3 linked regions of the Homo sapiens genome follow. The protein of the gene in region 1 binds, or shares a complex with, the protein of each later gene. Each region holds a gene or a part of one and is shown on either strand. Other genes may lie near its edges. The genes, in order: VIPR1, VIP and ADCYAP1. A codon is read from its position in the direction of its gene.

Region 1 (10,008 bases):
CTTATCTAATACTTATTACAGTAAAAAGGTTGGAATCCAGTGGCAAGGGCCAAGACTCCAGGTTGAATTCCCTTAAAAGCCAGGGAAGAATGCAGCCTTAAGTCAACAGCCCATACCTGGAAAGACCCCACGACGAGCTCAAAGACCATCTTCACTTCAGGCTTAAAATTGTCCGGAAAGAAGGCGAACATGATGTAGTGTACTCCAAACAGGGGGATCAGCAGGAGTGTGGACCTGGCTAGCCTTCTGGAGACAGGGGAGGGACAGGCCATGGGTATGTGTGTCCACACATGTGGATATGATAGGGTGTGGCATGGGGGCAGCTGGAGGCACAGAAGATGGGGACAATGACCAGGAAGTATGAGGATGGACTGTAGGTTCCTCTGAATATTATGCCCTTGTCTGCTCCTGTTCCACAGCTGCAGTGCCTCTGCCCTTCTGCCCCCAGCCCTCCTGGCCTGGAGGGAAGCATGAGAGAGAAAGAAACCCCCTCTATTCTCACCCTTCTGGAGGAGAGAGGGTAAGAGGTAAAGGAGAGGCCAGTGAGAATGATGCTAACAGGGACATGTTAGCTGAAATCCACTATTGGGAGTTCTGTTGCCTGGGCCCCCTGGTCTAGGAGAGGCTTACCTCATCATTGCAGTAGAGGATGCTCTCAGCCATCAAGAGCAGTAGAAAATCTCTTAGGCAACAAGAGATTCTGGTTCCTCCTCTCCTGGTCTCAGTTTTTCCAATTTGTATAATGCAGTAAGTGTATGCTCGACATAGTCAAATTATAGAAACAGAGGCCCACTATGAACTTGGAAGTGTTTTGGGTACTATGAAGTATAGTGCATCCATGAGAGACCATGAGAGAAGACGTACTAGGAAACAAGTCTTTCTAACTGGGTGCTGACCACATATGCCCAGGGCCACTTGGGAGGGTGATGGGGACCCAAGTTCATACCTGATCACCAGGGACAACCCAAAATTAATCAGTATCGCCCTCTATCTGTGTTTTTTCTGCTGTGTCTGCTTCTCCAGAAGTTGCCACCTTCTCTGGGGTTGCATCCCCCTCCTCCTACCTCCCCACACCAGTGCATATACTCCCAGCGTGCTCTGAAGGACCAGCTCCTTCTTCACAGCTTTGTGTGCTCAGTAGGGTCAGCATTCATTCTAAATGCTCACCCGCCTCCCATGGCCCAGAGCTCTTCCTGGTTCAGGCCTCCCAGCCACCTGACCTCATAGCTGATCCAGGCAGTGTGAACCCATTGCTCCCTGGCTAGGAGAGGTGGGGTGTGGATAGGGAGGGTCTCTGACTCTGTCTCTCCTGCCTTAGCAGTCAGTCCAAGGAAGTCTAGCCCAAGGCCTGAGGTCCCACAGCAAGCTGGGGGCAGAGGAGCTGGCCTTGCCCCTCCCACTCCTTCCTGGACCTGGTTCTCAGCCATGCCAAGATCCTGAGCAATGCCCACCCCTCTTCGGCTGCAAAACTATCCCACACACCGGAGGCTAACAGATGGAGGCTTTCTTTAAATCAAAGGCTTATGGGGAGGTGTAGAGTGGGAGCTGACAGCTTCTCCTTGAGGAGCTTCATCTCCAACTGCCCCCACCCCTTTTGCCTGCTGACAACTGTTTCCTTTCTGTCTCACCACACAGACCTGGCCCTGACCATGGCCAGCTCTGTTTGCCTCAGATTCAGGCCCTTTTGAACCATTGTAAGTTGGGGGAAATAAGGTCCCATCGGCAAAGGAGAGGATAAGGGTGCACAGGCCCGATGTGCTGCCCCTCAGCAGACTGCAGATGCCCCCCCCGTCCCCCCCAGCCTTTCCTTCTCAGACAGGAAGGGAAGCTCCGCCTACACACCTGGCAGGAGAGAATGCAGTCACACCAGGAATGTGAGTCTTAGTCTCATCAGGGAGAATCACAGGATTCCAGAATAGAATCCTAAATCCAGCAGTCTGTGACATTCTAGCCAGGAATCTTAGAACCACAGCACAGACTCTCCAAAGAGAAGCCAGGCCAAGAAGAATCCCAGGACTGGAAGGCCTTGTGGGACGTCCCAGGTTTGTCTTGTGTCAATAGCACTGATACTCAATCTCCTACTCCCATCTGTGAGCATGCAGACCCTACTTGCCTTCCCACAGCCTCCCTTTTCATATTTTTCATGTTTCTTTAGCTCTGTCTTCAAGCCTTGTTGCTCCCGCAAAAAAACCTGCCTCTTCCTCCAGTCCTCCCAAGCAGGGGGAACAGTCCTGACACCTTTCCAAGCCCTGGTCCATGGACATTGTGCCCCCTTCTCCCTGCCCATGGTGACCTGCTCCAAAACCCTCAAGGAGAAGGGAGTGTATGTCATTTCCTCCCTGTAAAGTAAAGATAATTTTGCAGGGGACTGTGTGGATGAAATGACATGATGCATGGAAATCCCTTAGCGTGTGCCTGGCATGTAAACTGCAGGTGTCATCATTATTACTGAGGAATACTGAGTCCCGAACATGGCTGTCTCATTGGTGGACTGGGGTCTCCCCCAGGGCATTCATCTACTATGTGTTTATTGCACCCTTTTTCCATGTGAGGCACATGCCAGGGACTGGGCACATGGTATGAACAAGACACAGGTCATCGGTGTCCTCTTGAGCTCCCTGGCTTGGCAGCAGATGCATACCTGGGAAGGATGCTAGGTGAGTGTGGGCAGGAGAAGCATGCAGGGCTCTGAGTGCAGCCTGGTGAGGGTGGGGCTGGAGCAGGGGATGGTGGTGGGCTGAGCCAGGCCATGGTGGAGGTGGGAAAGAACAATGTGGCTCTTTGGTGACTCTGGATGTTTGGGGTGGGAGGACTTCAAGGAGATGTGGGATGATTTGAGGACTGGGGATGGAGGTACTGGGGGCTGAGGCACTAGGCCCACACTCACGAGTATGGACTGCTGTCACTCTTCCTGATATCTGGGGGCCGCAGTTTCTGAAGCAGGATTCGGATGATGCAAATAAACAGGATGAAGTTTACCTAGTGGGTGGGGACCCGAGTTCGGGCAGTCAGAGCGGGAAGGCTGAGGTGTTCAGGCCCCTTGACTGCTGGCCTGTCTTCTTTCCCAGGGTCCTGCTGCCCCTCTCTCTATCTTACCTCTCCTCTGGCATTTCCCCTTTGGGCAGGTCATCCGGGAACTCTACCTCCTTCAAATCCCTAAGGACTGTGCTCCCAATCCGCTTACGCTCAAGGAAGAACTGGTAGGACAGGGGTGGGGATGATCCTGCATTGGGCATTAGGAAGCTACGTTTCAGTTCTGACCTAGATACTAATTTCCCATGTGACCTTGGGCTAAGTTGCCTGCCCTTTGGGCCTGTTTCCCCATCTCTAGGTGGTGGGAGGGTATCTTACCAAGATGGAGGTGAGGATGGGGCCCTTTATGATCCACCACAGTGAGGAGTTGATGGTGTCCCAGCACCTGAGCAGACCGTGGGGAGGAATGAGAGGGATTGTCCTCAGCCAGAGAGAGACTCAGCAGCACCTCCCCCAGTTGTCCCCAGCTCTGCTCCTGAGCACTTTAGCAACCCCGGGCCCAGAGTCTGTTGCTCCCCAGGTCCTCCTCCAGCCTCCCCTCTGGCCCGAGAGCTGTGGTTTTTGTCCACTCACCAAGGCCAGATGGCATTATCATCCCACCCAGGGGGCCTGCCCAAGTGATGGCGGCCGGGGGAGTGTGTGGGGCAGCAGCTCACCCATAATCCTCAAAATGGATCCTGGCGATGGTCCACACCATGGTGAATGTGCTGGGTACCCCTGTCAGGCCCAGGGAGAGTGAAAGAGCAGAGAGGGCACAGGAAGCAGGGGTAGAGGGCATGAGGGAGAGATTTTGGAGAAAAGCAGGGAGAGGGAGGGAGAGAGAAAAGGGTGGGTTGTCAGTCTGCTGTCTTTGGTTGCATAGGTTGTTCACCACGGAGGGATGCTCCACTGAGGGGGTGAAGCTGTATGCCTGAAGGGCTGTGTCTACCTAGACGGACATTCTCTTTCTAATTGTGACAGAGGCCCTTTATAGATTAGCAGTGGCCCTGTGTATTTCGGGAACTAAAGGGAAATGGAAAGATGTTCACAAAATCTGTCCCACAGGTCAGCCCTAGGTGCAGCTGCAACCTGAGGGACTTGTCCTGGGATCAGACATTTTGAGGACTTTCTTGACCCTTGGCTGATATCCTTGCAGGCAGGACCTGCAGCTAAGCAAGACGTAGGACTGCAAGCTGGGTTGGCACCCTCCCCCTAGGGAGTTCTCCAGGCCTTGCCCCCTCTGTCCCCAGCCTGGAAGCCCTCCCTGGTACCATACCCCAGCCGATGAGTATGTACCCCCAGAAGTACTTCCGCTCAGAGAAGAAGGAGACGGCAAGCAGGGTGTACAGGTAGAGGCCCTCCACCAGCAGCCAGAAGAAGTTAGCCATGACACAATATTGGAAAAAGACCATGGCTGCCTTACAGCCCACCTGCAGGGGGAGGAGAAAAGACGGGGTTCACTGGGGCTGTCAAGGGTCCTTGACTGCCCACACTCGTGTCTGGGGGGACAAACACAGTTGCAGTGCAGCCAACTTAATCTCTTTGTTGTTTTGCATTATCCCCTTAAAAATGTACTCATTGGTTTTCCCATTTTCCCTAATTTTAGATCCTCTGATACTTCGGGATAAACTGGTGATTTTAATTATCCATCCATCAATTCATCTATTCACCTTCCCATCTATATATCTACCCATCTGCCCATTCAATCATCTACCCACCTATCCATGTATCCATTTATTTACCCACTCACCCACTAGACATTCACTATCAACTCACTCATTTATCCATTTTTTATCCATGTGTCCATCCATCATCTATCATCTTCCCATCTATCAATCCATCCACCCACACACCTATCTCTCCATTCTTCTACCAACCCACTCAGTCATCTACCCATCCATTCATCTCTGCACCCACCCATCAATCCACTTGTGCATCCACCCACATATCTACCTACCTGCCCCTCTGCCTATCATCTGTCCAATCTTCCTTACTTAACCCATTTATCCTGCTGCCTACTTAGCCATCCACCAACCTGCCCATCCACACTCCCACCCCACCCACTCATTCATCTAATGCCAATTTGTATTGAAGGTAGCTGGAAGGTATGAGGGAGAATTCTTGCTTGAGTTTCAAGAGTCTGCTCAATGTGGGGGAGTGGAGGGCTGTGGACTGTGGAGTGGGGCCCAGATGGAAGTGTGGAGGGAGACTGGGACTGAGAAGAGGGTGGAAGAGGGGGAAGTAGAAATGAAGAAGAAGAGAAGAGGGGAGGGGTGGCCATTCCTCCTGGGGTTCAGAGGACCGAGTGGAAGAATGGGTTTCTTAGGCAGACGAGGACCATGAAGGAGTTAGGGAGACCCATGAGTAGAGCAATCACAGGGCTCTGGGTGGCCCACTTGGCATGACTGGAAGGTATTCTGGGCCTTCTGTCCCCTCCCAGAAAGTCCCCCATTTCAGATCAAGCCTAGATGTCTGTCAGCCAGGGCTTAAAGCCACCCTCCACCAGGAAACTGTCTGGCTTCCACTTCCCCCTGTACCCAAAACATTGGTTCCCACCCTTCCTTCCTGTACCCTTGGTTTGCGACATCCTCAGAGAGAAGCCTCCCCCTGCCCCCACCACTCCCTTTGGTTGGAAAGTCCTTCCTCAGGTCTCGCTTCAGTCCCTCCAGTTACAGGAGTTCTTGCCTCCCCATCTTCCTCCCATTTGCTTTTGGAGAATAACTCTTTTTTTTTTTTTTTTTTTTGAGATGGAGTCTTGCTCTGTCACCTAGGCTGGAGTGCAATGGCATGATCTCGGCTCATTGCAACCTCTGCCTCCTTGGTTCAAACGATTATTCTGCCTCAGCCTTCTGAGTAGCTGGGATTACAGGTGCTGACCACCACACTCAGCTAATTTTTTTTATTTTTGTATTTTTAGTAGAGACTGGGTTTCACCATGTTGGTCAGGCTGGTCTTGAACTCCTGACCTCATGATCCGCCCAACTCAGCCTCCAGAAGTGCTGGGATTACAGGCGTGAGCCATAATCCGCGTCTGGCCATAACTCAGCTCTTTACCAGGACAGTTATCTGTGCTTCTTCCTAGTCTTAGAAAAGCTTCGCAGTAATGAATTGGGAAGCCAGTCTCCATAATTATCCGTAACATGTGCACAGGAGGCAGCAGGTTCCTCCACAGGTCCTGTGGCTCACAATGCTCATGTCTGACTTGGCCTCACAGCTCCTGGGACAGAACCTCTGAGAAGCTCTGGGAATGGCCAAAGTGGGTCCCCTAGGTTTTCTCTCCCCCTTGTTGAAATGCCTGAGATTCCAGTATGATCATTTCACTCTTTGGGGAGAAGGTACTGCTGACCCCTGATATAATGCACTGCCTCTGGGGTCATGCATGAAGCAATGAGTTACTGACCACAAGGAATGAGTGGGGGCTGGGGCTGATCTCAAGCTCTCTGTCAAAGCTTGGGGCACTCAGAGAGGGTCCCTAAGAATCCCTTGGAGATGGCCCCCTTAGTGACTGGCAATGAATTCCTTAGATGATCCCTTTACCTCTCTTCCCTAGGAAGGCCCAGAACCAGCCTGCTGTCAGGATCAGAACAAAAGAGGAGGACTGCATATGTATGGACCCACTCCAGATGGCACGGGGACGGGGGGAGTAGGAAAAGTGGCATGGTGAGCAGAGCCCTGGCTATGCAGGTGGCAGATGGCAGAGTTGGAAGGAATCTTGGAATTCCTTGCACAGATGGGGAAACTGAGGCTGTAAGTTCCCCAAGGCCACATAGGAAGTTAGCAACAGGTGGGACAGGTGCTCTGGGCTGTGGCCATGAAGTGTCCCATTTCCCATCTGCTTTTCTCACTGGCGGCGGCAGGTCTGTGAGCACCCAGATGGGTGAGCAACATCTCCTGTTGCCGGAGGGGAGTGTGATTTGAGTACTGCCAGGTGGGGTTGGGTGGGGGTTAGGCTATCCTTGGATTGAGGGGTGGGGTGGGAGGGAAGAGGGAGGAGGGAGAGGGAGAAGCAGGGGGAGAAGAGGAGATTACAGTGGTTAAAGATAACGGCGAGACTGAGGGAGGTGGGCCAGGGCCAGGATCCTCACCGAGCCCTCGGAGCACTGGTCCGACTCCCCGCTGTCGAAGAGGGCCAAGTCTTTGATGAAGACAGCGGCAGCCCTCAGGATGAAGGATATGAAGAGGTGCATGTGGATGTAGTTCCGCGTGCAGTGGAGCTTCCTGTGTGGGGTGGGCAGATCTGGGAGGCCAAAGGGGCCTTGGATCCCCACCCCAGCCAATGCTGTCCTATGTGCTGAGCAAGGGTGGGGCAGGGGAGCATGTGTCCTCCAGAGGGCAGGCCCCGCCTCAAAGGGGATCCCATCCTGAAATACGAGCCCCACCCCCAGGTACCCCATCCACCTGTGCAACTGGGCTCCCAAGGGCCTCAACCTCGTGTGTGGCCCCAGAAGCCTCATTCCTGTGTGCAGGCCCCACTCTCTGGTGCCCTGTCCCCAGGTGCAGGGCCATCCTAGGGGAGACTAGGCTGCAACACATGGAAGAGCTCAGCCACCTGCCTTCTCCAGGGGAAGCTGGCCTGGCAGGAGCTGGGGAGTATGTGCTGCTGGGGGGCAACAGTGGAGGGGTCGGGGCACGCCTGGGCCACGCTGGGCTCCACTGTGGGAGGGACACTTGCCAGGTTTGCTTTGAGGCCTGTGACTTGGGCTGGGCCTCACCTGAACAGGCTCAGGATAGCTGTGGCGACCAGAAGGGTGGCGAGGGACAGGCCGTAGCCAATGGTGTAGCCGGTCTTCACAGAACCGTAGAACATGGTCTGCTGCTGTTGGAGGGACAGGGAGAGGCTCTTGGGTGGTGGGGTGGGAGGCTCATCTAGGGGGTATTGGCAGGGGTGGGGTGCCCTACACACTCTGCCTGCCCAACCCTGCCTCAGCAAATGAGGAGGCTGAGGTCTGGGGCTCCCAAGAGCAGCTGAGCCCCTGACCCCTAACGCCCTGGTTTCTACAGACAGGGCAGGACTGTGTCTTAGGGTGGGGTGGGGGTTGAATGTACTTCCTGTCTTTGCTTCTTTACGAGGGACAAGTTGGTGAGGGAGAGAATGAAGACCTTGCACGTCCCTTTTGTTAATTTCATGTCTCCAGCCATGTGCCCGGCTTCCCTTCTGTGCCAGCTCTGAGCTGGGCACCCTAGGGGTGGGGTCTGCTTGCCCTTCAGACACCCCTCGAGGCCCTGTCTCTGTATAGGGAGGAGAGGTATGCGAGGTTGCGGGATGTCGAAGAAGACACTGGCACTAGTATGTCCCATTTTGGGCCCTTGGGAGTTGGGGTCGGTGGGATGAGGGCAGTCTGGCCTTTCCGGTGGAGGAGGGCAAAGCTAGGCCCCGAGGGTGTCTCGCTTGGTCCCCTCTCCTGATGCCCTCCCCATGGACACAGGTGCAGTGCAGCACGACAGCCACTAGGCAAGCCACTCCTTCCTGTCAGCCTCCCACGCTTGCCTGAGGAGAGGCAAGTGGTTAAGGGGGAATGAGGGCCTATAGCTCCAGTGGGCTTCAAAGGCCTCTGAAGAAATTGCTGTCCTCGGGGGTGGGTGGAGTGAAAGCCCGGTCTGAGAAGGGCGCCTGAGGGTGGGGCAGATGCCATCGCAGACAGACACACACACATGCATTTGCACCCCAAAGCAGTGAGGGGCTCCTAGCTGAGGACTCCAGCCTCCCCATCAATGTCCTTACCAGGCTCCCCAGTCTTTACAGAGACCATGTTTTAACTGCTCCGGGGAAGATATCTGTCCTGGGACTGAGAATGACAGGCTCTGTCCCTGTTCCTGACTGGCTATTTGGTAGCCAAGTCTGGTTCCTTCCAGGACCTGCAGCAACTCGGTTTCCCCTCTGGATGGGATGGGGTGCTGGTGTCTGCCTGCCCTGCCAACTCCCGGGCTGAAGTGAGGTTCCCATGAGGCAGTAGGGTGGCCCAGCCTGGGGGAGCTGCTTCAGCTTTTGCTGCTCTGGGGGCCCCTCCTGTGGGAAAGCCTCCTCCCATACCCTGTCAGGGGGAGCCAAGGGTTGGGACCCCAGAAAGGCAGGCCTGGAGGAGGCTAGAGGAGGGCAGACTCCAGGAGTCCTGTTCCCACACAGACAGCAACCACACCCCTCGGTGGGAGAGATCAAAGTCTCCTAGGTGGGCCCCGGCGCTCTGCAGGTGAGGTGGGGGTGCCCTGAGACCCACCTCATCCAAACTCGCTGCCTTGTCATCCAAACCACAGGCAATGGGGTACGGGCCAGGCTCCAGGTGCGTCCAGCCTTCGTCGGTGCAGCTGCGGCTTACATTGCGGCCTGGGTGGAGGGCAGGGGCAAGGACAAAGGCTGAGGCCGGGAGCATGGGGACCTGGCTGTCTCTGCTTGGAACAAGGCAGAGAATTCAGCCCTACTCCCACCAACCCTGGTGCTGTCAGGTTCCAGCTGCCCTGACCCAGTTACCCAGGGCACCGTGGGGGCACCTGGGGCAGGGAGAAGCCTCTTCAGGGCTCCCGCACCGATGATAGAATCAGAGCAGACATTCTTGGGCTCAGCCCTTTTGTTATGGTCTGAACCTGACCCCAAGTACAACATACACTCTTATCCTTGTCACAGACCCTGCCTGGATCCTTGTCACAGAATGATTCCTGACCCTTGCCGTGAGCAGAATGCTGACCCTTGTCACAAGGCCACGGCTGGGGGAAGGGGCCCAGGCCTGCCCGGTCCTCCTCAGTCAGCCTGCCTGGGCCTGTGGGGCTGGGTTTCTTCTCACACCTGGAAGGGCTTAGATGTGCTGCTGGAGGGGGAGCAGGAGTGTGGGGGTGAGGAGGGGTGGGGTTGGGGAACCTGTGCAGGCAAAGGCATGTGAGGGGGAATCAGGCAGCACAGCATGGCAGGAGCTTGGGGCTGAAACAAGCAGAGGCTGAGGCTCCAGGCAAGCTGCACTGTCCACTGTCCTCAGAGGCTTGAAGCTGCAGCAAAGAGACAGGACC
Region 2 (9,472 bases), on another chromosome or scaffold:
TAAATCCTTAGTTTTATTGTTCTATATGTTATATTATATATTCCAAATCCATAAAGTATAACACAACTCTTATTTAAAACTTTATTAATGTATGCTAAAGAAGTAAACAATAAATGAAAACTATATTAGCTTGAATTTTCCTTTCAGTTTACGGGCACCACTGTATCTCCAAAGGAAAAATAATAATTGGGTTGGTTTCCTTCTTTGCTTATTAGGTCATTCTTGATTTTTTGCTTAAGGTAGACTTATGCTCAACAGAGAGAATAACCTCTTAGCTATTAGTGTTCTCTGTGAAATCTGTTTAAATACAGCTCCTGCGTTGCTTTGATAACTAAACAAAATGGTTCTATCTGAATAGTTCTACCACAGCAGATGAACAATCACAAGAATGTGGACATTTGTGTTGATTGCTAAGCTTCAGACCCACAGAGGACTAGTTGCTAGTGACTCCCAACTCCCAAATCACTGAAAGATACACAAGTGTCCAGGAGCTGACACGCTCCTTGGATGTTTGCCCTAACAGTGAAAATCTGCACACACAAAATTATAAGAGTTGCCGGTGATTGAAATATGCATGCATCCATAAATATAGTCATATTCCATATATGCATTTGACTATTCTTAGTCTTTCAGTGTAACATTGTACATCCCTTATTAAAGTTGTGTTAATACATAAGATTAGAAAAAAGAAGGCCCCATAAAACTTATTGAATTCAAATTCATCTTCATAGATGAGCTATCCATCTATGGAGACATTCTTTGAACTCTGTCAATACAGAGAAATATATAATGCCAAAGTAAATATTTGAAGCAAAGCTTGGGGGTCGAGAGAGAGAGAAGCAGTTAATACTCTGTTCTTCAGAGATGTTTGGAACAGGTAATACTGAACATCACCAAATCCATAAATTGTTATCAGTTCTCATTCAATATTAGTTTTTTGCAAGTTTCTATTTTGCATAAAATATTTCTACATACGAAATTTGACTTTGCAAAGTGAAGATATTCTTGGCATAGTAAATTACACCAAAGAAGTATAGTTTGCTTAATGCTCTGATAAGATTGAATTAAGTAGCTCTTGTGTTTTGTATATTCAGCTTATAAAAGTCATATGGCATCTACTTTATAGGATAATAGGAATTTCCTATTTATACTCTCATTAACTATATGAGCCATTAAGTCAAATTATGCTATTCTCATATTATGACTGGGTAATACTTCCCAAGAGTCTAAGTATCTTATTTTAAATGGTTGCGGAACCATACACACTGTCTTCTGAAAAAAGAATGTATTATTCTCGTGTAACTTTCCCCATCAGGTTGGGTGACAGAATACCCTTTGAGGGAGCAAATGAACCTGATCAAGTTTCATTAAAAGAAGACATTGACATGTTGCAAAATGCATTAGCTGAAAATGACACACCCTATTATGATGTATCCAGGTGAGTTTATTTTTATAAAACTATCCAATGAGTTTTATTTTAGAAAATGTGTTTAAGAACTATAAACGTGCTTATTTTATCTCACCATGAAGCTATTCCGATAGCAAAACACTAGAGGTTTCTATGTGTCATGGCTTCATTCATCCTGATTTACTGCAGATCTTACAGCTGTACATAATTTTCATACTGAAAGGTTGTAACAAGCCAGGATGAACACACCATTCACTTCCATTCTGTTGCACATAATTCCAACATCACAGATTGTACCAATTCTGATAAAAGTACAGCATTTAGCATTCCAATGATGGAAGAGTTGCCAAGGAGTTTTGTCTCTATATAAAGAAAAGATACCTGATAGAGCTGTTCATTCATAGAGCTGTTTGTCTAGAGCATCATTTCAAGTACAGACCAAGTAGCTCTATAGTACTTGGTACAGACAAAGTATAAAAGGTGCTTCATTTGAAAGAGAAAAGGTGGGATGATAGGCCTTAATGCCTTCTCTATCTTAAGAGATTTTGTTTCCAAATATTTTGGAAAAAGAAAAAAAAAGGTGTACTGGGGTTTATGAACTTTCCAAAATCAGAATATTTTCCCATTGTGAATGTCTTTATTCAGTGGGGCAGACACAAAGCACCATGTACAAATAGCAGCTAATTTAAATAGATCATATTTTTACACCAATATTTCTTAGAAAGAAATAGTTATAAAGATTCAACCATGGAGGAATATTGAAATGTGCTCCTAGAAATGCCTGTTTCTTTAATTTTTCAGTGTCTTGGGCTAGAAATATAGGGTATATCTTGATATAAGTGACTAGAAGATCTCTTTTGTTAGGGTGTTAAGAAATCTCCTTTTGAACTTTAGTTTTAATGAGAAGCTTTCATAATAAGCCCATAATTTTTTTGTTATTTAATAAGCCATAATAATATTCTAGAAAGCCATTTACAAAATAATAGCTATTTTTTTCTTCCTTGTTTTAGAAATGCCAGGCATGCTGATGGAGTTTTCACCAGTGACTTCAGTAAACTCTTGGGTCAACTTTCTGCCAAAAAGTACCTTGAGTCTCTTATGGGAAAACGTGTTAGGTAAAGAGAATTTATTATTTTTATAAAATATGTTATCATTATTCAATCTGAATATTGTATTTTCACTCTTAACAAGTTATTTACTTTGTTTGAAATTGAAAACTCGTTGATAATGTTTAATTTAGTTAAATGAAATAACTTGTATTCTTCAATAACATCTATCAAGCCCATGGACTAAGACTTTTTCATAATATCATATTCATTGACTCCAGACACACATTTTTCTCAAGTAGCAATCATTTAGCAATCTGCAATCAAATTGAACAAGACTCAGTAAAACAATCAAAAAGAGATAGTACAGACTGAGGTAAATTTTAAGGTCAAACAGAATATTCTTTTTACTTCCTGCTCAAATTAAATGGAGAATTCCAAATGGCCAACAGTCAAATATTTAGATGACGTTGCTCAGGGTAGCATAGCTTCTAAAGAAGTAATTATGTTTTTTTTAAAAAAAAAAAAAATTTCTCCCAATGGCAGAGCACAACTTCAGCTATTCCCAAATTTTTATTTTTGGATGAATTATTTGCTCAGCTGTACAGAATGTGTCATAAAACAGTCCCAGGCCATGCCAAAATATGGCAGATGATTCCTTGCTTTCCTTCATCCTTAGGTTTAGTTGTATTTTTCTTTTAGTCTTTTTATGATAGAAAATTAGTTGGGTGGGAATTGCTTTTTATGTGGCTCCAAGAAACCTGGAACATGTGTGTATTTATCATTTCTTGTGAAAACTCTTTGATTTCCTTTTCCTCATGTTCCTTAGCAGTAACATCTCAGAAGACCCTGTACCAGTCAAACGTCACTCAGATGCAGTCTTCACTGACAACTATACCCGCCTTAGAAAACAAATGGCTGTAAAGAAATATTTGAACTCAATTCTGAATGGAAAGAGGAGGTAAAGAAAAAGAGAACTTGCTAAAATGAGGAATCATGACTGACTTTCAAAATAGAAGCTGCACATGGAGACCTCTCTATCTCACTTATCTAGCTATACTACGTGAAGCAGTGATTTTCAACCTTGGCTGACATTAGACTACCCCGCAGAACTTTAAAAATACAGATGTCTGGGCCTTCTCCCAAACCAATTGCCAGGAAATCGGTGTCTTCGGTGGTGTGGCCCTAGACATACATTTCTTTTAAGAGTTCCCCAGTTGACTTTACTATGCTGCCAGTGTTAAAAATGATGACTATACAGACATCTAGTCTGAATCTAAGAGCAAGTTTCATCAAAAGTGATGATTTTTAAAACATGTAAAGCATAGTCAATTGCAATTTGGTAACACATGGAACTCACTTCGTGTGCATATTCACTACTGTTATTTAATCAAATTAAACCATTAGGTATTTTGTATATTTAGATTCTGTAAAATCTATATCTCTCTATGGTGTGTAAATATTGGACACAATACATAAACAGTGTAGTGTTCTGTCTTTTTATTCCAATTGTTTTTGTTTAAGTGATGAGTATTAAGGATAATTCTGTTTGGGTGTGATCAGACAAGATGACCTCTTTGCCCACTAGATGATAATTCTGTGAGAATAATTTTAGAAACTCTAAGATTGATGAATAATTCATAGGTACTAACAAACCTCAAAGATAATTGTTTAGCCTCCCCATACACTTTCAGAGCACAGAGAACAGCACATTCATTATGTCATAATAGTTTCTTTAGACCCTTTCTCATCTGAGAGCCTTAATATGTACAATGTTTTTCTGGTCTGCAGCAGTGAGGGAGAATCTCCCGACTTTCCAGAAGAGTTAGAAAAATGATGAAAAAGACCTTTGGAGCAAAGCTGATGACAACTTCCCAGTGGTGGGTATATTCGTGCATTCCTTCTGTATTCTTATGGCTGTCTCTGATTATATAAGTAGCTAAGAGTCACTTAGTAAGAAACATCTTAGGGTTAAATAGTTTCTCATCATGAGACCTCATCCAAGACAGACACTTCTACAACAGTGGACCCCAACCCAGTAAACAGCTTAGAATGATTCATGAAATTTTTTTGATCTTGTAAAAGAGAGCACTCACAATAAGCAAACGTTTTGAGATCTGAATAGTGTTCCTGGCTTACTTGGGGTTATTTCTACCTTTGTATCAAGATAAAAAAACAGAGGAGGCTGACTCACACTGACAAGAAAAATGGGCTTTCCTTTTGAGGATCGACCCATGCTGCTTTTATTAATTGAAGGTTTAGTCTCACAATTGACTGTTAGCTCCTCAATTAAGTATAGGGAAATAGCACCAAATTAGAGCATGGCCCATTACTATGAAAATATCAAGGCATTCTGGGTCTAACTATATTCCTTGAAACATGGCAAACTTCATAGAGCAAAAGTTAAATTTAGCTTGTTTTACCTGTAAGTTTGTTTTACCTATATGACTCTAATAGCATTCTCTGCCAACATTTTTTTTGAGCAGAAAAAACATGGATAGACTTTTTTTCTTTGTGAAGTAATAAGCTTGCTATCAAAATTGATTTTATATAAATGTGGGTTCAAGACATATTTCTTTCCTGAGTTACATTACATTAATATTCACATTCGCTCATAAAAAATCTATAATACTGGGCAAGTGCTTAAAGAAATTTCATGCTGTCACCATATCAAAGGTTAGCAGATTTTAAAGGGCTATGGAGTAAAATATGTTTGGCTTTGTGAGCCATCTATTTTCTGTTAGAGTGACTTAACTCTGCTATGGTAGCACAAAAGCAGCCACAGTTAGATGTAAAACGAATAGGAGTGACTGTGTTCCAATAAAACTTTATTCATAAAACCTGAAGGTGAGCCAGATTCCAATCCCTAACTAGGTTAAGGAGATTAAATTCACCCATGCTCAAACTAAAGGCAATTCATGGCCTTACCTCAGTTCCTGATGGGGTTATCTAAGGTTTTCAACAGTCATCAAGAGTGGACATGGTGTCTGGGAAGATACCTGCTTAATTGACTGCTTTTGTCCACTAATTACCCTTAGACCTCTAAGAGAAAGCAGAGGCAGGAGTGTGGCCCACATCAACTCTTTATCTTTTATAGACATCTCAGAGAAACAAGTCCCTTTGCTCAAAGAAGAAAGTTAATTACATATAGCTTTTCTAAGAGTGTTTATAAGAAGGCTTCTCCATCAAATTAAGAAACACGGTAGGCACTAAAATATAAAGGAGAATTGATTAATCACACTGTGCTTTGTAAATGGTAAGATCACTTATGAGATTCCATCCTCCATTCTTTTCTTTTTTAAATGGGTGGCTTTGGACAAATTCTTTGAAGAGGAAATCATGTGGGTCATCCATTAGTGAAAATTACAAGTGAATCATTAATAATGGTTAGTTAGACGTCTTTTCACATTCCAGTTCCTCTCTGATAATCAGTCCTCTAGAAGCTGCTCTCTTGGTATGTCCCAGGACATGATCCCCTGCCACAGGCTGTTAACAAGGGACAAAGAGAAATAAGTGTTTATCAGATAAGTAAATCAGTGAATGAAACTAAGATGCTAGAAATAAAATATATTTTATGCCTAAAGCAACAATTTTTTCTTTTTCAGAATTCTTGAAGGAAAATGATACGCAACATAATTAAATTTTGAGTTCTACATAAGTAATTCAAGAAAACAACTTCAATATCCAAACCAAATAAAAATATTGTGTTGTGAATGTTGTGATGTATTCTAGCTAATGTAATAACTGTGAAGTTTACATTGTAAATAGTATTTGAGAGTTCTAAATTTTGTCTTTAACTCATAAAAAGCCTGCAATTTCATATGCTGTATATCCTTTCTAACAAAAAAATATATTTAATGATAAGTAAATGCTAGGTTAATTCCAATTATATGAGACGTTTTTGGAAGAGTAGTAATAGAGCAAAATTGATGTGTTTATTTATAGAGTGTACTTAACTATTCAGGAGAGTAGAACAGATAATCAGTGTGTCTAAATTTGAATGTTAAGCAGATGGAATGCTGTGTTAAATAAACCTCAAAATGTCTAAGATAGTAACAATGAAGATAAAAAGACATTCTTCCAAAAAGATTTTCAGAAAATATTATGTGTTTCCATATTTTATAGGCAACCTTTATTTTTAATGGTGTTTTAAAAAATCTCAAATTTGGATTGCTAATCACCAAAGGCTCTCTCCTGATAGTCTTTCAGTTAAGGAGAACGACCCCTGCTTCTGACACTGAAACTTCCCTTTCTGCTTGTGTTAAGTATGTGTAAAATGTGAAGTGAATGAAACACTCAGTTGTTCAATAATAAATATTTTTGCCATAATGACTCAGAATATTGCTTTGGTCATATGAGCTTCCTTCTGTGAAAGTACATTTGGAGACACAACTATTTTTCCAAAATAATTTTAAGAAATCAAAGAGAGAAAATAAAGACCTTGCTTATGATTGCAGATAATTTTTTTGTTTGATTATTTTATATGATTCAGCAGTAACTCATTTTAGCTCTAAAGTTCTAGGCACTAGATAGCTTTTGTGGTATTTGATTGTGTGCAAGTTCTAAAATAATGATGGCTTAAAATAAAAGAGAAATTTCTTTCTCACGTAAGTCAAGAAGTAAGATGTCAGGGTTATTATAATGGTTCTGCTCAGCAAAACCCTCAATAACTTACACCCCTTCCAGCTCATCCCTCATCTCCAATGGTGTGGCACTTTTCCTCATGATCCAAAATTAGAGCTAGCATTCCAGCCATCACATATGCATTCCAGGCAGCAGGCTATAGGAAGAAAAAAGGGAGCAAATATTATATGCCAGTTCTCTTTGAACTGATATCTTATACTAACATCCCCTTTACTAGTACATAGTCTTATGGCCACAGTCATTTGCAAGAGAGGCTGGGAAATGTAGTATGTTTTCTTTTCTTTTTCTGGGTGATCATGTACCCAACTTAAAACTAAGACTCTATTAATATAAAACAAGGAAAGAATAAATGTATGCAGCGATTAAAAATAATTCCAGGCTTGGATCTTAAATTCTCACCCAAAAAGCTTAAAGAAATAATAAAGAGAGCGAGAGTCAGACCCTAACCATTAATGAAGAAGCATTATCCCCATAAGGCAAAGTTTTGCTTGGTTTCATTTTCTACAATTAGGACAAATGGCCACATCAGGAGGAACTAGTCTAGAAGTACCAGTAATTGCAAAGTAGTTTTCACAAGTTGAAGTAAATTGAGCTTCTTGTATCTCTTTTTCTTATCTGATTCTTCAAATTATTAAATATTTATTAAGTGACATTTTTATGAGAAGCACTGCAGTGAAAACAGACAATTTCTAAGTGTTAAGTGTACATAAAAAGCTTGTAAAGATGAAATGGAGCCATAATTTGAGTGTGTAACTAAAGAGTTTTAATTTTATTTTATTAATATGAATCTTTTCAATTTATTCCCTATTGCTTCAAGAAATTCATTGAAGAAATATTCACTGAATGACTATGATGTGCTATGTAGCTATCTGAGAGATTGTTCTGGGCTGAGGGAACAGCAAGTGCAAATGAGGGAACAGTCCTGACATATCTGGAGAGCAAGGAAGCCCATGTGGCTGGAGCAGAGTATGCTGGACAGGGACTCAGTAGGAGAGGAGGTCAAAGAAGTTACTAAGGACTGGACCTTGTAGGGCCTCACAGGCCACTGTAATTGTTTGTGAAGTGAGATGAGGTATGGCAGAGTTTTGGACAGAGGTGTGATATTATCTGAACTGCACTTTAACAGGATCTTTCTGGATACTCTAATGAGAGAAGAGTGAAGGAGTGCTAAGGGTGGAAGCAGGGGTACAAACTAGGGGGCAAGTGCTATAAATCAAGTGGCAGATGATGGTGCCACCAAGGCAGAAGCACTGGAGGTATTGAGAAGTATATCTGAATAGATCTTGAAAGAAGAGTCAGGTTTTCTGAGAATGGGTTGAAGACAAGAAATAGGAGAGGCTGGGCATGGTGGGTCATGCCTGTAATCCTAGTACTTTGGGAGGCTGAGGCAGGAGGATTGCTTGAGGCCAGGAGTTCAAGAAGGAGGAAAGTCAAGAATGACATCCAAGGTAAATCACCTGAGGCAACTTGAAGGATGGGATTGCTATAGACAGAGAAGACTGGGAGGAACGAGGGTTCAGGGAAAGGTGAGCTTAGTTTGGATGCACTAAGGCAGATGTTGAGTAGGGAGTTGGAGATGTCATGAAGAGGAGATGCTGAGCTGCAGATGGGCAAGTGGGAGATTTCGCATATAGACGGGATTTAGAAACACAAGACTGGACGAGATCAGCAAGAGACCAAGTGTTGCTAAACAACAAAACACAACAAAAACAGAAACCTCAACACATAATCCTTGAGTGTTTTTATTTCCTAGTGCCACCATAAGAAGGCACCGCAGACCAGGTGTCTCAAACAAAGAAATCAATTGTCTCACAGTTCTGGAGACAAAAAACGCTAGAGCAAGGTGTCAACAGGGCAGGCTCCTTCTGAGAGCTGTGAGGAAGAATCTGATCCATGCCTCTCCTCTCGTTTCAGGTGGTTTGCAGGCAACCTTTGGCTGATAGAAGCATCACTTCTATCTCTGCCATGACCTTCAGGTAGCATGTCTCCAAATATTCACTTTACATAAGGACATCAGTCATTTTGGATTAGGGCCAATGCTAATAATCTCATTTTAAGTTGATTTCCTCTGTAGAAACCCTATCTGAAAATAAGGCTACATTCTGAAGGACTAGGGTTAAGGACTTTCACATATGAATTTTTGGGGACACAATTCAGCCAATAATCCTGGGGCATGCCAACATTAAGAGTTTGGAGTTTTGAGAAACAAATGGGATAAAAATGGACTGGAAGAAGAAGCTATTGAAATAGGAGAAAAATTGGAGACCATGTCATCTGGAAAACAAGTGAAGAAGATCTTTCAAGGAAGAGGGTATCATTAACAGAGCCAAATCCTGCTGCAGGGTAGATTACAATTCATTTATTTAATTCTTCT
Region 3 (10,701 bases), on another chromosome or scaffold:
GTAATAATAATAACAATAATAATAAATAAAATTAGCCAGGCATGGTGGTGGCATGTGCCTGTAGTCCCAGGTATTCAAGAGGGTGAGGCAGGAGTCTCACTTAAGCCCAAGAGTTTGAGGTTGCTGTGAGCTATGAATGCACTACTGCACTCCAGCCTGGGTGACCGAGGAAGACTCAGTAAAAACAAAACTAAACAAACAAACAAACAAAAACTGCAAAGCCGTGATTACCATACAGTGCTAGTAATAATGATAATAAAAACAAAGGCTCCAAAATTATTACATGTAAACCTATATTCACAGGTAGATAATGCCAAGCCTGAGCCCAAAGGGCAGAGGGATGCTAGGGGCTCACAGAGGAAGACCTTCTTTTGATTTTACACACAAAAACCTTGTTTTATTTTGCATATAGATTCCCCTTCCAACATTTTCTGAAGTGGTCTCAAAAGCTTATTTAGGATATTGGTTTTCCTGGATCCTGTCCAAGCTTTTCCTTCTGCATTTAAGCCTTATGTCAGCAGAGGATTTAGACTAAGTAGAGAGAAGACTTTCTTCTCCTTGGCTTTTTAGAGGAGGTGCTCTGGAATTTGGAAGATGCTACACAGTGAAGTCTGGGATATACATTTTTGGTACCCAGTAAACTCATGTTCAGAGAATAAGGCCTTAGTAGAGCCATATATGTGAGATATTTGGAATCATCCAAACCTGTAGCAAAGGTTAGATCCTGGTTTTTGTTTCTCAGATGTCTGCTTTATATCTCAAAACAACAAGCAAAATTTCTTGGCTCTGTGAATATGCAATTCTGTTCTTAGATTAGAGAGAAGCTTTACTCATGTGGTTTGGAAGGCTTCCTTTCCTAGTTGTTTTCAGTGTGTGAGAAGCACTACATTTTGAAGGTCAGAGAAGTCATGACACATTATAGGTAAGCTCATCAGCTTCTTACTTCACAGTGAGTTCTGAAAGGCATGATGCATGCAGTCCAGTAAGTGATGGTCATGATGTTCTGGTTCAGAACATTTGGGTTTCCCTACAGGTGTAATCGGTATGAAGTGAGTCATTAGTCATTGCATTTTCTGGAAAAGTCGGTAGAGAAAAGTTTAAGTGAAATGTAATACAGTGTTATAATTCACTTTTGTCACTCACAGGAGAGGATGATGTTTTGCATCAGGCTTGTTTACTGAAAAAGCTTATTATAGCCTGGTTCTTATGCTAAGTACTGGCTAAAAAAGAATAGAATGTGCCAGGCACGGTGGCTCACGCCTGTAATCCCATTACTTTGAAAGGCTGAGGCAGGTGGATCACAAGGTCAGGAGTTCGAGACCAGCCTGGCGAACACGGTGAAACTCTGTCTGTACTAAAAATACAAAAATTAGCAGGGTGTGGTGGTGGGTGCCTGTAGTCCCAGCTGCTTGGGAGGCTGAGACAGGAGAATCACTTGAACCTGGGAGGCGGAGGTGGCAGTGAGCCGAGATTGTGCCACTGCACTCCAGCCTGGGGGACAGAGCGAGACTTCATCTCAAAAAAAAAAAAAAAAAAGAATGCACAACTTTTCCAATCTTGATTTAGATTATTTATACTAGGAATGTGTGAGGATGCCTTGAACAAACATGTCCTTTTATATGGTTAAGAAAATCAAATGTTGTAGGATATAGAGATAGTGGTAGTAAAAGGTAATGGTGTAGAGATATGTACCTAAGGAAAGAGAATGTCATGGAGAAACCCTGGGTACTATGGGTGACTGAGCCAAAAAGAAAGTAGTGGAAATCTTATCTAAGTGACCAGAAGCCGCACTTCACTGGGCTGCTTAAAGGCAAAAATACTTTTAGCTCACCACTGATTTGCAATATGGGGATGGAGGGGAGCAGTGTTTAAAAGATGCTGAAGATTCCCATGCAAGAGAGGGAAAGCCAATTTCCCAAGTGGTGATGGTCCAAAGGCAGGAACCTGGCACAGACACAACAGTACAAACACTATAGTATTTGCTAATGTTGTGAAGCCATCTGCAATTCAAACTCCCAGTATATATACTAGACATATTCCTCCTGTTTGAATACAAAAACCCACTTCCTCAAAGGCTAGAGTTCTTTAAATTGAATGTTAATTCAAGGTTCAAGGATTGACCCTTCAACAAAGGCGGATGTGTTAGCCACCAGGAAAAACAATTCGGGGAAGGGTTAGTTTGACTTTTAGCTATTATTTATCATTTCTTACCCAAACTTGTTTTCACATCTGAAGGACCAACAGGATAAAAGTTGATACATTAGGGACTTGAAGTTCAGAGTATTATTAAATCATTTCCAACAAATATATATAAACAGCGTCTTCCGGGCAGGTCAGGGCTTAGCTCAAGTCACTTTCAGTTGCTGTGCCTCAGGGAGGATGCTGGTTAGACCTCCCACTGAAAGATTTCCATTGTTCTTCTAACTTTTCTAGCCAAACATGATTCCAGTTAATGTAACAATCTCACAGCCTGGAAAGAAACTGCCAGCCTGGGAAATCTACTTTTCTGGCCTGGGAAGTATTCTGGTGAGCACTGAGGGAAGGGAGTAGGGGTGTTGGAAAGAAGACTTGAAATTCCTTTGTGTTATCTGTAAATAGAACGTTCTAACTCTTTGGTCTCTTCTTCCTCCTCTCCCCCAACCCCCTCTTTCATCATTTTCAATTATATATAGGAGGTTGGAAAGTTTCTCTTGAGCTCTTAACCCCAGTCACCTAAATACCCTTTGTGAGGGAAACTGGGTAAGAACAATTAAAGTGGAAGGCTCTCCTACCCTGGTCTTGCTCTTCCCCAATTCTCCTCTAGCTCCTCCTCCCTTTATCTCTCTCTCTTCTCATAAAAGTGCTTTAGTTGAGGCTTCCTAGGATTCACCCTCCAGCTCCTATCTGCACTTGAAGCCAGGCTGGGGTCTGCACTTGCAATTAGTATGTCTGTTGGACTGGGCCACGGTATCCCACCTGGCCACTGCCGCATGCCTCCTCAGTGCATGCCGGGGCTCCTGGTCTCTCTAGCCTGGGGCTTTGGGCTGACAAGTTCCCTCTTCCTTGCAGCTCCCTCAAAGTCCCAGACACAAAGGCCTCCAGGATGCTCTGTTAATGCTTGACTGGAGCCTTCCAAGATTAGAATCAAAGGGGCATTTGGGGGTAGTTTTGGTCTTTGAGACTTCAGTCATCCCATATTCCCTCTACCCAATAGAAAGCAGAAGGGGCCTATACTCTCATCTAGCAGCTTCTAGTTCCTCCTATCTATTGGCCTTTTCCCTTGGCCCAGGGCCAAGGCCAGATTTTCATGAATAGGAAAGCTCTCCTGCAGAGAGATGTCAAACATGCCCAGCTAGACAATGGCCATGAGCAACAAAAGATCTGTGGGTGATCCTGTAGGAGTTTGATTCCCCCAGGCTGCTGTGGGCAGGGCTGTGTGGGTCTTTAGATTGTGTTGAGCAATTGGTGGGTCTAGGAAGCTTGATTTTCTGGAGTTCAGTGACCAAGAATCTCAAGTTCTCTGTTTAGTCTTTCACTCTCGTGAATGGGTTCAGGTCTGAAGGCCTGTAATTTTTGGGTGCTGAGCCCCGAGTTCTGAGCTGAGAGTATCTAAGCTGAGAAGAGCACGGGGTCGCAGCCTTGGTAAGTCAGAGGCACAGTTCAGCCTCTGTTGGCCCTTGGAGCCAGCAGTTAGTCGTCCTCCCCAGATAGTTAATCGTGTTTGTGGTTTTCCCCCTTTAATGGGCCGTGAAGTCAGCAAACTCCCCACATGGTGGCTCCCTTTACTAAAGTTGAGTAGTGAATTGTACAAGGAGTCTTGGAAATTTTCAAATATTTCTCCAGATTGAACTCAACTCAGAATTCGTGTGGGAGGAAAGAGTAAGGATTTTAATGGGGTTCACCTTTGACGTGAAGCAAGGCGGAAGACAGGAAAGCCACAGTGGGGAATAGCTTTGGGCGCTTTAGTAAGAAAGACATCTCTGCTTGATTATCTGGTAGTGTTCACCGCAGGCTCTTTGTGTGCGAGCTTGCTGCAGAGGCAGAGCTGAACATGGAAAACACGCATGTAAACAGTCCAACATAAATCAGTGAGCATATGTATCAGAGAAAAAGAGACATATTCCCATGTAGATGTGGTTTGAAGCTTTATTGAAGGCAGACAATCTGAAGCACGGCCAGGAATAAACTAAGAGGAAGCAGACAGTTTTCGGTCATTCATGGCCAGGAATAAACAAAACTTAGTTTTTTTTTTTAAGAAGGAGGAAGTATTAAATCTCAAATAAGAGCAGGAACAGCATTTAGAAGGAGAAATATAATATCTTGGAAAAAGCATGCAGAACTAATATAGCTTATTTAAATGTGAGATCCAAATCGTAGTAACAGGAAACCCTCCCACTAAACTGGAATTTCCCCTAATTTTTGTGTAAGATCCAAATAATTAAAATGCACTCTAATGGTTATTGATGGCTCTATTTTCTTTCTTTCTTTCTTCTTCTTCTTTTTTTTTTTTTTAAAGAAATAGACCTGAGTTCTCTTACTGGAGTAGAAATATATGAACCTTCTTCAATTACCCAGGAAATTGGAAGCCTCTGGGTGGATATGGTCTTCCCTTATTGCTTTCCTCTTCCCACATCATTTTCAGTTAAAAAAATTAACTGTTTCCAGCAGAGGGATTCCTGTTAGAAACCTTCATCAGGTGAACTTGTACTGGGAACCCTCATGCTTTCCCAGTCTGTCTGTGTCTCCCAAACAGAGCTGAAGTTGTAAACAAAGTGGAAAAACATATTTCTCGCCCCCAAATTCTTAAAATTTCACTTCTTGTGGAAAACACAATTTCACAACATCAATTTTTAAAATCTGTAAGAGCCACAGAAGGTGTGAAAGTAGCCAAACAGCCGGTCTAGAAATCCAAAAGCCAGGACTAACGGGGGACAGAATGCTTTTTCCTCAAATCCAGGCAGGGATGGGGAGCATTCTCAGCATTAGGGCATTTATGGACGCTACAAGAGGGAAAGGATGTATCTGAACGGTGGGGGTGATTTAGGCGATGAATCGCCACGTTAATAGCACTACTGCCAAATCTTCAAATTTAGAGGCTCTGGTGAAAAATTAAACCGGTGGCAATTTTCAACGTTTGTAGCATCTGTTACCCTACACTTCAGCACCCGGAGTCTGGACAGCTCCGCAGGCCGCGCTCCGGAGGCAGCATGAGCTCTCATCAATCTACTCATAGCCCTACTGTCAACGGCAGCCAGACTCAGGAGAGATTTACTGAAAATCCTCCAAGACTTCCCTTTAAAAACAAAACGACTTCCACATTTAATGGTCTATCTGAAAGAACATACGCAAGAAATTAGGAGATCTAAATTAAATTTATTAATAGGAGAGCTTGATGATGCTTAATTCCAGAGACCAGAGCTCTGATTGGTGAGGCTTGATGAAAAAGTAAAGAGAAATCGTAATTATATAGTTAAAAACATAACTTTTGTCATCCTCAAAATTCTAAAAATTCTTTACCTGTCCTTGAGAAACGGGTGAAATTGAAAACCATCAAAACAATTGGACTTCTTAAAAATTGGATTGTATGAGTGAAAGGTGTTTATGAGAAGTCGATGACTCCGGATCTTATCATCCAAGAGGACAGCACAGAATAGTTAATATGTTCCTTGAGGGACTAGGATGCTGACGTCTTTTTCTGATACCCGATCATTACGTGACTGAGAAAAAAAAAAAGGAAGTCATTTCATGAATAAAAATCGGAGCGCAACAGTGCAACAAAATATTCTGTACTTAAAGGCAACAGGCAGGCAGATGTTGACAAAGAGGGCTCTCCAAAAACCATGTTCGGATAGATTTTTGCGAACTGCACAGATAAATAGGAGCAGAAGGCCGGTCACCTCTGTAACCAGCGGTAGCAGCAGCAGAAGCCGCAGCTTCAGAGGCAGCCGGAGAGACCTCGGAGCAGAGAAGGCGCCGCCGACCCTCGCGGCTGCCTGGCCCGCGGCTCCTACAAAGGCGGGCTAGCCGCCCGCCCTCTCCCTTGCCTTCCTCCCCTTCTTTTCTGACTTTCCCTCTTTCCCTTAATCGCCTGCTTCTTCCTCCGGGTGGACTTACGGCCACCTTGCTCCTCCGCGCTTCACCTCATCGCCCCCTCTTTCTTTCTTCTGCCTCTCTCTCTGCGCCCCCTTCTCTCCGTGTCACGCTCCCTCCTGGTTCTGCGCGTCTACAAACTTTTGAGCAGAACACGAGCCTCGGCAAACGAGTCCCGCAGCTCCTCCTGCTGCTCCCGCTGGTTCCTGCGGCTTCTGCTCAGACACCAACGCCAGACGGCGATGCCTCTCGGGTGGTGACTCCAGCGCAGGAACTTGAAGAAGCGCTTTGCCCGCCGTCCTACCTGGCAGCTCTCCTGGCAGCGGGAGGAGTTGAAGGGTAAGGGAGGGAAAATCTTACCAAAGCGACCGGCTCACTCGACTGCTGATTCTTTCGCTTGGCATCGCGTCAGGGGAGTTAGCTTTCCTTCAGCCGGGTCTGGCTAGTTATTGGGCGCCGGGTAGATGCATATATATATATTTTTTTCTAACTATAGCAAGCAAGAAGTGGCAGGGCGCGCACCGGCTGTCGCCAAGTGCTGTTCAACTCAGGGAGCCGGGGCTTCGCTCCGTCCCTCCCCCGGCTTCCAGAGCTTTTTGGGGTTGGAGGGTGGGAGGCCAGGGGCGTTCTCACAGCTGTGTGTCCTCTTTCCCATCCTGCGCAGAATGACCATGTGTAGCGGAGCGAGGCTGGCCCTGCTGGTCTATGGGATAATCATGCACAGCAGCGTCTACAGCTCACCTGCCGCCGCCGGACTCCGGTTCCCCGGGATCAGGTAGGTGCTGGCTGCCTGGCCCAAGCAGGAGCTGGGGCTTCCCAGGCACAGACGCTTCCTCACGGTCTCCTTCCTGCAGTCCTTTGGGTCCAGACTACTAGCATCGCCCTCTGCGCCCCCGGTGCGCCTCCGCCAGCCTCGGCTGGACAGCGGGTCCCCATTCTAGCCGAGGGTCTGGCAGGCTCCGCGACTGCTCGGACGCCTCCCCCAGCCCTAGGCAGCTCAGGGTCCCGGGTAGAGCCAGTGAGCTTCTGGCCGCTGGAGAACCCCCCCTCCCCCAACCCGGCCCACAGGATGGGGGCAGGGCACGGCCCCTAGCTTGGTTTCTTTTACCTATTCTTGGGACGAGTTAGGAGAACTTCAGCTCTGGAGCCTGGCCGGGGGTTGAGCGTGAAGCTCCCTCGGACTTTGCTTTGTTACTGCTTGTTCTGGACTATCCGGGTGGGGTCTCTCTCTCTCCTCCACCCTTTCTTTTCATTTCATTCCAATTCTTTCCCCTGAAGAGCTTTCTTTCAAGTGATCCGTGTTCCAACTGCATTTTGAATCCCAGGCTGTCTTGGGGGGCGTGCGGTGGGGAGGGTGTTGGCCCGGTGTGATTGAGGAAAAGCGACTTAAGAGAGGGAAGAACAAGGACGAGACTGCGAAGGAGGGGGAAAAACAGGCGCAAAGGAGGAGGAAGGGAAAGCCAGCAGGCAGGCAGGACCGGGAGAGCAGCCCTGCCTGGCCCGGGATGGAGGAACCTTGGCTTTTTTCTTAACCCCGGGTTTCTAACCGGCAGGCGCGGCCCAGGTTCCCGGAGGCAGCCCCAGAGTCGCGGACCGATGTGCCAGGCTGTGGATGAGCCCTGGGTAGGGGAGGGTTCGTACCAGCGGCGCCTGGGGCAGCGAGGAGCGCGCGTTCTGCCTGCGAAGCTGCCTTCTCCGAGCCCCGCCCAGGAACATTAGCTCTGGGGGGCCGCTGATCATTGATTTGGACGGAGAGATGGGTTCTGGGTTCTGTATTAGGATTCCAGCATCTGGGCTCGAGGCAGGGCAATATCCAGAAAGACCCCAGGGTTCGGGGTACCCGGGCCAGGGCTGAGGCGCATCGCCGAGCAAAGGCTGGGTGCGAGGCGTGCGGAATGATGCGCTTGCCTTGCCCGGGCCTCTCCAAGGATGGAGAAAAGGCGAGTGAAGCAGCGAAGTACGACTCCAACCCCGCCCAGAGAGTGCTACTAGCGCTGGCTGCACGCCAAGTCTCTCCAGGGGTCCAAAGCGAGAGGGATTTGTTTTAACCCATCTCTACCCGTCCTGTGTCAAGAACGGAGGCTGTAGAGGGCGACTGCGAAGTCGCCAGGCACTCGCTGGATCTCGGTCCCCCTCCTCGTGCTCTGGGGTTGAGATGGGGCACCGCCATCGATAACAGATCAGCGCGAACTATTCGTTTAGTGGCCTTAAAACACCCTGGTTTCACCCTCAGCTATTTTCAAGTTCCCGTGTGCCTGGCACTTTCTCCGTGCGAGAAGCACCGGAGGGTGCGGACGCGCCACAGTCTGAGCCGCCGCCGAACTGGCTAAGTTTAGGGGCATTTATTATTCATGTTCCTGCCAGATCCTCGCCTGCCCAAAATAGAAACCGAGGTTCTCCGTGACCTACATCTGCTCGGAGAAGGGCTCCCCTGGGCTCGGAGGCTGGGGTGGGGGTGGCTGAGGAGTTGGCCCCCGCACGCCCCACGCATCCTCTCCTTTGCTTTCTGGGCCTCCCCATTCGGGTCTTCGCGTGGGTCAGCGCCCGGTCTCCCAGGGCCTTTCTCGTCCCCGCCCGTTGCTGCTTTGGGGAGGCTCGGGAGCCAGGCGGGGAGGGGGGCGGTCCTTTTCCGTAGACAGGTGTGCGCGATCGGCGGAGACGCCTCGGTTTCCCAGCGCTTGTTGAGGCCGTGGCCCGCAGGACGACCCTTTACCCGCGAAGGGGGGGTGGGCGGGCCGCCCGGCGGGGTAGGAGTGGTTGGGTGTCGTTGCCTCCTCCTTACCTCTGCTCCCACCCCCAGTCCTGGGAGAAGAGACAATTCTCAGCGGAGGACTTTTATCACCTGTGAAAATCCGCGCGAGCCCCTTACTTTGGATCCTCGCCGAGCTGGGGAGGAACTTGCACTGACCACACCTTCTGTCCCCGGCCACCCCGCAGGCCAGAGGAAGAGGCGTACGGCGAGGACGGAAACCCGCTGCCAGACTTCGATGGCTCGGAGCCGCCGGGCGCAGGGAGCCCCGCCTCCGCGCCGCGCGCCGCCGCCGCCTGGTACCGCCCGGCCGGGAGAAGGTGAGATTCGCGCGGCCTCGCGCACACCCGCGGCTGGGAGCTCGGGACTGCGGTGACGGGAGGGGCAGTGTGGTGACCCACCCAGGATTTTTTTTTTTTTCCCGTGAAAGTCCTCAAGCCTGTCCTCTCCCTGGCCCGATCCTATTGCAGCGACAGAAAATCAGCAGCGGGCGGGTCTGTGTGGACCTGAGGGCCGCGTGGGGACCGAGGGGGGCTGTGGCCCAAAGAGTGGCAGTGAGTGGCGTCAAGGAACCCACACTCCGCATCTGCCACTCCTAGAGCCGGGACTAGCTCCCGATCCTAGCAGTTGCTCTCGAGATCATCCCGGGAGTTATTGGCGAGTTCTGGGCCTCTGGAGGTTTCCCTGTCAGCCTCCCCGGCCGCCGAGGGGGCGCGCGCCCAACAAGGGGGTCTCTAGCGGCCACCTGGGGACAGAAACAGTGACCCTGGGCGCGCACTTTGCCTCCCCGTTAGAGATGTCGCCCACGGGATCCTTAACGAGGCCTACCGCAAAGTGCTGGACCAGCTGTCCGCCGGGAAGCACCTGCAGTCGCTCGTGGCCCGGGGCGTGGGGTAAGAGTTTGTGGAAGGATTAACCTGCGCGCGCCGGGGTGGGTGCCTGTGCGGGGCGCGCGGGGCGGGCGGCGGTGGGTGCCCGTGGGGGCCAGGGTGAGTCTGCGCCCCTGGGTCTGGGGTGGGCATCCGCCACGGGTCGCAGTTGGAGATTTTGAAGTGGCACTTTAAATTTGCCCAGAGAGCTCTGGAAGAGGCAAAAAGGGAACGCGAGCCAGGGAGTTTGATCCGTTTTGAATGAAAAGAAAGAGAAACCAAACCAAACCTCTCAGTCATCCAAAACCTTCAGGCTTCCAGGGAGGTTTTGCTATAATTTTCTCTAAGCATGACTGTTTCTGGGGGAGGGGAAAGGGGTGGTTGTATTTACTGAAAATTCAAATCGAAATAATAAATGGCCAAATGTGGACACTTATGGACCCAAACAGTTTTGCTCACGCCAGAGAAACTGAGAGCACAGGGCTTGTGTGAAGCCTATCTCGGCAGAAGGCAACATTCTAATAAAGCCCGTGGGAAAACAGATTACATTTTCGCCATGAATAAGTCATGCAGTGAAAAATATTGCCTACAGCCTGTCGACTTATATTATTATCACGTTTTTCAACTCGGCGTGAGGAGGGAGAGGAGTGTTCATATTTGACTAGGAATTGCAGGATCGATGCAAACTCCAGGGCAGCAGCCAGACTGGCATATGTAGGGCTCTCCGGTTACTTTCTCTGTATGTCGCGGGTGAGAGGAACAGCGAGGACAATTTAGCGCAAACACACGAAGGGTCGGATCTCAAGGGGGCAGCGCTGGGAGAAAGGTTAGGCTTGAAGCGCGCGTCGCCTGCCCGGATCTTATCCCGGGCCCCCTCCGCAGGGTTTGGTGCCAGGAGATCCTGCGTGGGGAGGGGGGCATCGAGGGGCTGCCGTCTCGGCCCTCCCCACGGCTGCTTCCAGGCAGAGGCGGGCGACGCGGTGGGCAGTGCGAGCCCCGGGCCCTCCCCGAAGG

What was found.
Region 2: the proteins of VIPR1 (region 1) and VIP are in contact, whole or in part, in a cryo-EM structure (PDB 8E3Z), measured with the Homo sapiens proteins. Residues at the interface, in NP_004615.2 of Homo sapiens: Glu36, Cys37, Val40, Ile43, Asn69, Phe90, Leu92, Phe93, Tyr118, Ile120, Asp125, Asp126, Asp132, Gln135 (codon at 7,825), Thr136 (codon at 7,822), Tyr139 (codon at 7,813), Val142 (codon at 7,804), Lys143 (codon at 7,801), Tyr146 (codon at 7,792), Tyr150 (codon at 7,780), Arg188 (codon at 7,172), Lys195 (codon at 7,151), Phe200 (codon at 7,136), Ser202 (codon at 7,130), Glu204 (codon at 7,124), Ser205 (codon at 7,121), Gln207 (codon at 7,115), Cys208 (codon at 7,112), Met219 (codon at 4,424), Phe222 (codon at 4,415); in NP_003372.1 of Homo sapiens: His125 (codon at 3,321), Ser126 (codon at 3,324), Asp127 (codon at 3,327), Ala128 (codon at 3,330), Val129 (codon at 3,333), Phe130 (codon at 3,336), Thr131 (codon at 3,339), Asp132 (codon at 3,342), Asn133 (codon at 3,345), Tyr134 (codon at 3,348), Thr135 (codon at 3,351), Arg136 (codon at 3,354), Leu137 (codon at 3,357), Arg138 (codon at 3,360), Lys139 (codon at 3,363), Gln140 (codon at 3,366), Met141 (codon at 3,369), Ala142 (codon at 3,372), Val143 (codon at 3,375), Lys144 (codon at 3,378), Lys145 (codon at 3,381), Tyr146 (codon at 3,384), Leu147 (codon at 3,387), Asn148 (codon at 3,390), Ile150 (codon at 3,396), Leu151 (codon at 3,399), Asn152 (codon at 3,402).
Region 3: the proteins of VIPR1 (region 1) and ADCYAP1 are in contact, whole or in part, in a cryo-EM structure (PDB 8E3Y), measured with the Homo sapiens proteins. Residues at the interface, in NP_004615.2 of Homo sapiens: Glu36, Val40, Ile43, Asn69, Leu70, Ile89, Phe90, Phe93, Ile120, Gly123, Leu124, Lys127, Asp132, Gln135 (codon at 7,825), Thr136 (codon at 7,822), Tyr139 (codon at 7,813), Val142 (codon at 7,804), Lys143 (codon at 7,801), Tyr146 (codon at 7,792), Tyr150 (codon at 7,780), Arg188 (codon at 7,172), Val192 (codon at 7,160), Lys195 (codon at 7,151), Phe200 (codon at 7,136), Glu204 (codon at 7,124), Ser205 (codon at 7,121), Cys208 (codon at 7,112), Phe222 (codon at 4,415), Gln223 (codon at 4,412), Val226 (codon at 4,403); in NP_001093203.1 of Homo sapiens: His132, Ser133, Asp134, Gly135, Ile136, Phe137, Thr138, Asp139, Ser140, Tyr141, Ser142, Arg143, Tyr144, Arg145, Lys146, Gln147, Met148, Ala149, Val150, Lys151, Tyr153, Leu154, Ala155, Val157, Leu158.

Annotation. Positions count from the first base shown.
Region 1 is NC_000003.12:42,525,213-42,535,220, reverse strand, and holds part of VIPR1 (vasoactive intestinal polypeptide receptor 1 isoform 1 precursor), read right to left. Parts: intron 9,335-10,008; coding exon 9,228-9,334; intron 7,829-9,227; coding exon 7,725-7,828; intron 7,250-7,724; exon of another isoform or gene 7,231-7,249; coding exon 7,098-7,230; intron 4,443-7,097; coding exon 4,289-4,442; exon of another isoform or gene 4,263-4,288; intron 3,751-4,262; coding exon 3,690-3,750; intron 3,419-3,689; coding exon 3,352-3,418; intron 3,201-3,351; exon of another isoform or gene 3,126-3,200; intron 2,980-3,125; coding exon 2,888-2,979; intron 2,658-2,887; exon of another isoform or gene 2,642-2,657; coding exon of another isoform or gene 2,596-2,641; exon of another isoform or gene 2,479-2,595; intron 247-2,478; coding exon 117-246; intron 1-116. UniProt on the Homo sapiens protein: G protein-coupled receptor activated by the neuropeptides vasoactive intestinal peptide (VIP) and pituitary adenylate cyclase-activating polypeptide (ADCYAP1/PACAP).
Region 2 is NC_000006.12:152,752,851-152,762,322, forward strand, and holds the end of VIP (VIP peptides isoform 1 preproprotein), read left to right. Parts: intron 1-1,315; coding exon 1,316-1,438; intron 1,439-2,025; exon of another isoform or gene 2,026-2,418; coding exon 2,419-2,523; exon of another isoform or gene 2,524-3,283; coding exon 3,284-3,415; exon of another isoform or gene 3,416-4,245; coding exon 4,246-4,291; 3' UTR 4,292-4,334; exon of another isoform or gene 4,335-5,940; intron 5,941-6,059; 3' UTR 6,060-6,910; downstream 6,911-9,472. UniProt on the Homo sapiens protein: PHM-27 and PHV-42 are two bioactive forms from proteolysis of the same precursor protein, that cause vasodilation. PHM-27 is a potent agonist of the calcitonin receptor CALCR, with similar efficacy as calcitonin.
Region 3 is NC_000018.10:898,653-909,353, forward strand, and holds the start of ADCYAP1 (pituitary adenylate cyclase-activating polypeptide preproprotein), read left to right. Parts: upstream 1-6,408; intron 6,409-6,429; exon of another isoform or gene 6,430-6,733; coding exon of another isoform or gene 6,734-6,734; coding exon 6,735-6,844; exon of another isoform or gene 6,845-8,000; intron 8,001-9,006; coding exon 9,007-9,138; intron 9,139-9,612; coding exon 9,613-9,711; intron 9,712-9,892; coding exon of another isoform or gene 9,893-9,938; exon of another isoform or gene 9,939-10,701. UniProt on the Homo sapiens protein: PACAP is a neuropeptide involved in diverse array of physiological processes through activating the PACAP subfamily of class B1 G protein-coupled receptors: VIP receptor 1 (VIPR1), VIP receptor 2 (VIPR2), and PACAP type I receptor (ADCYAP1R1).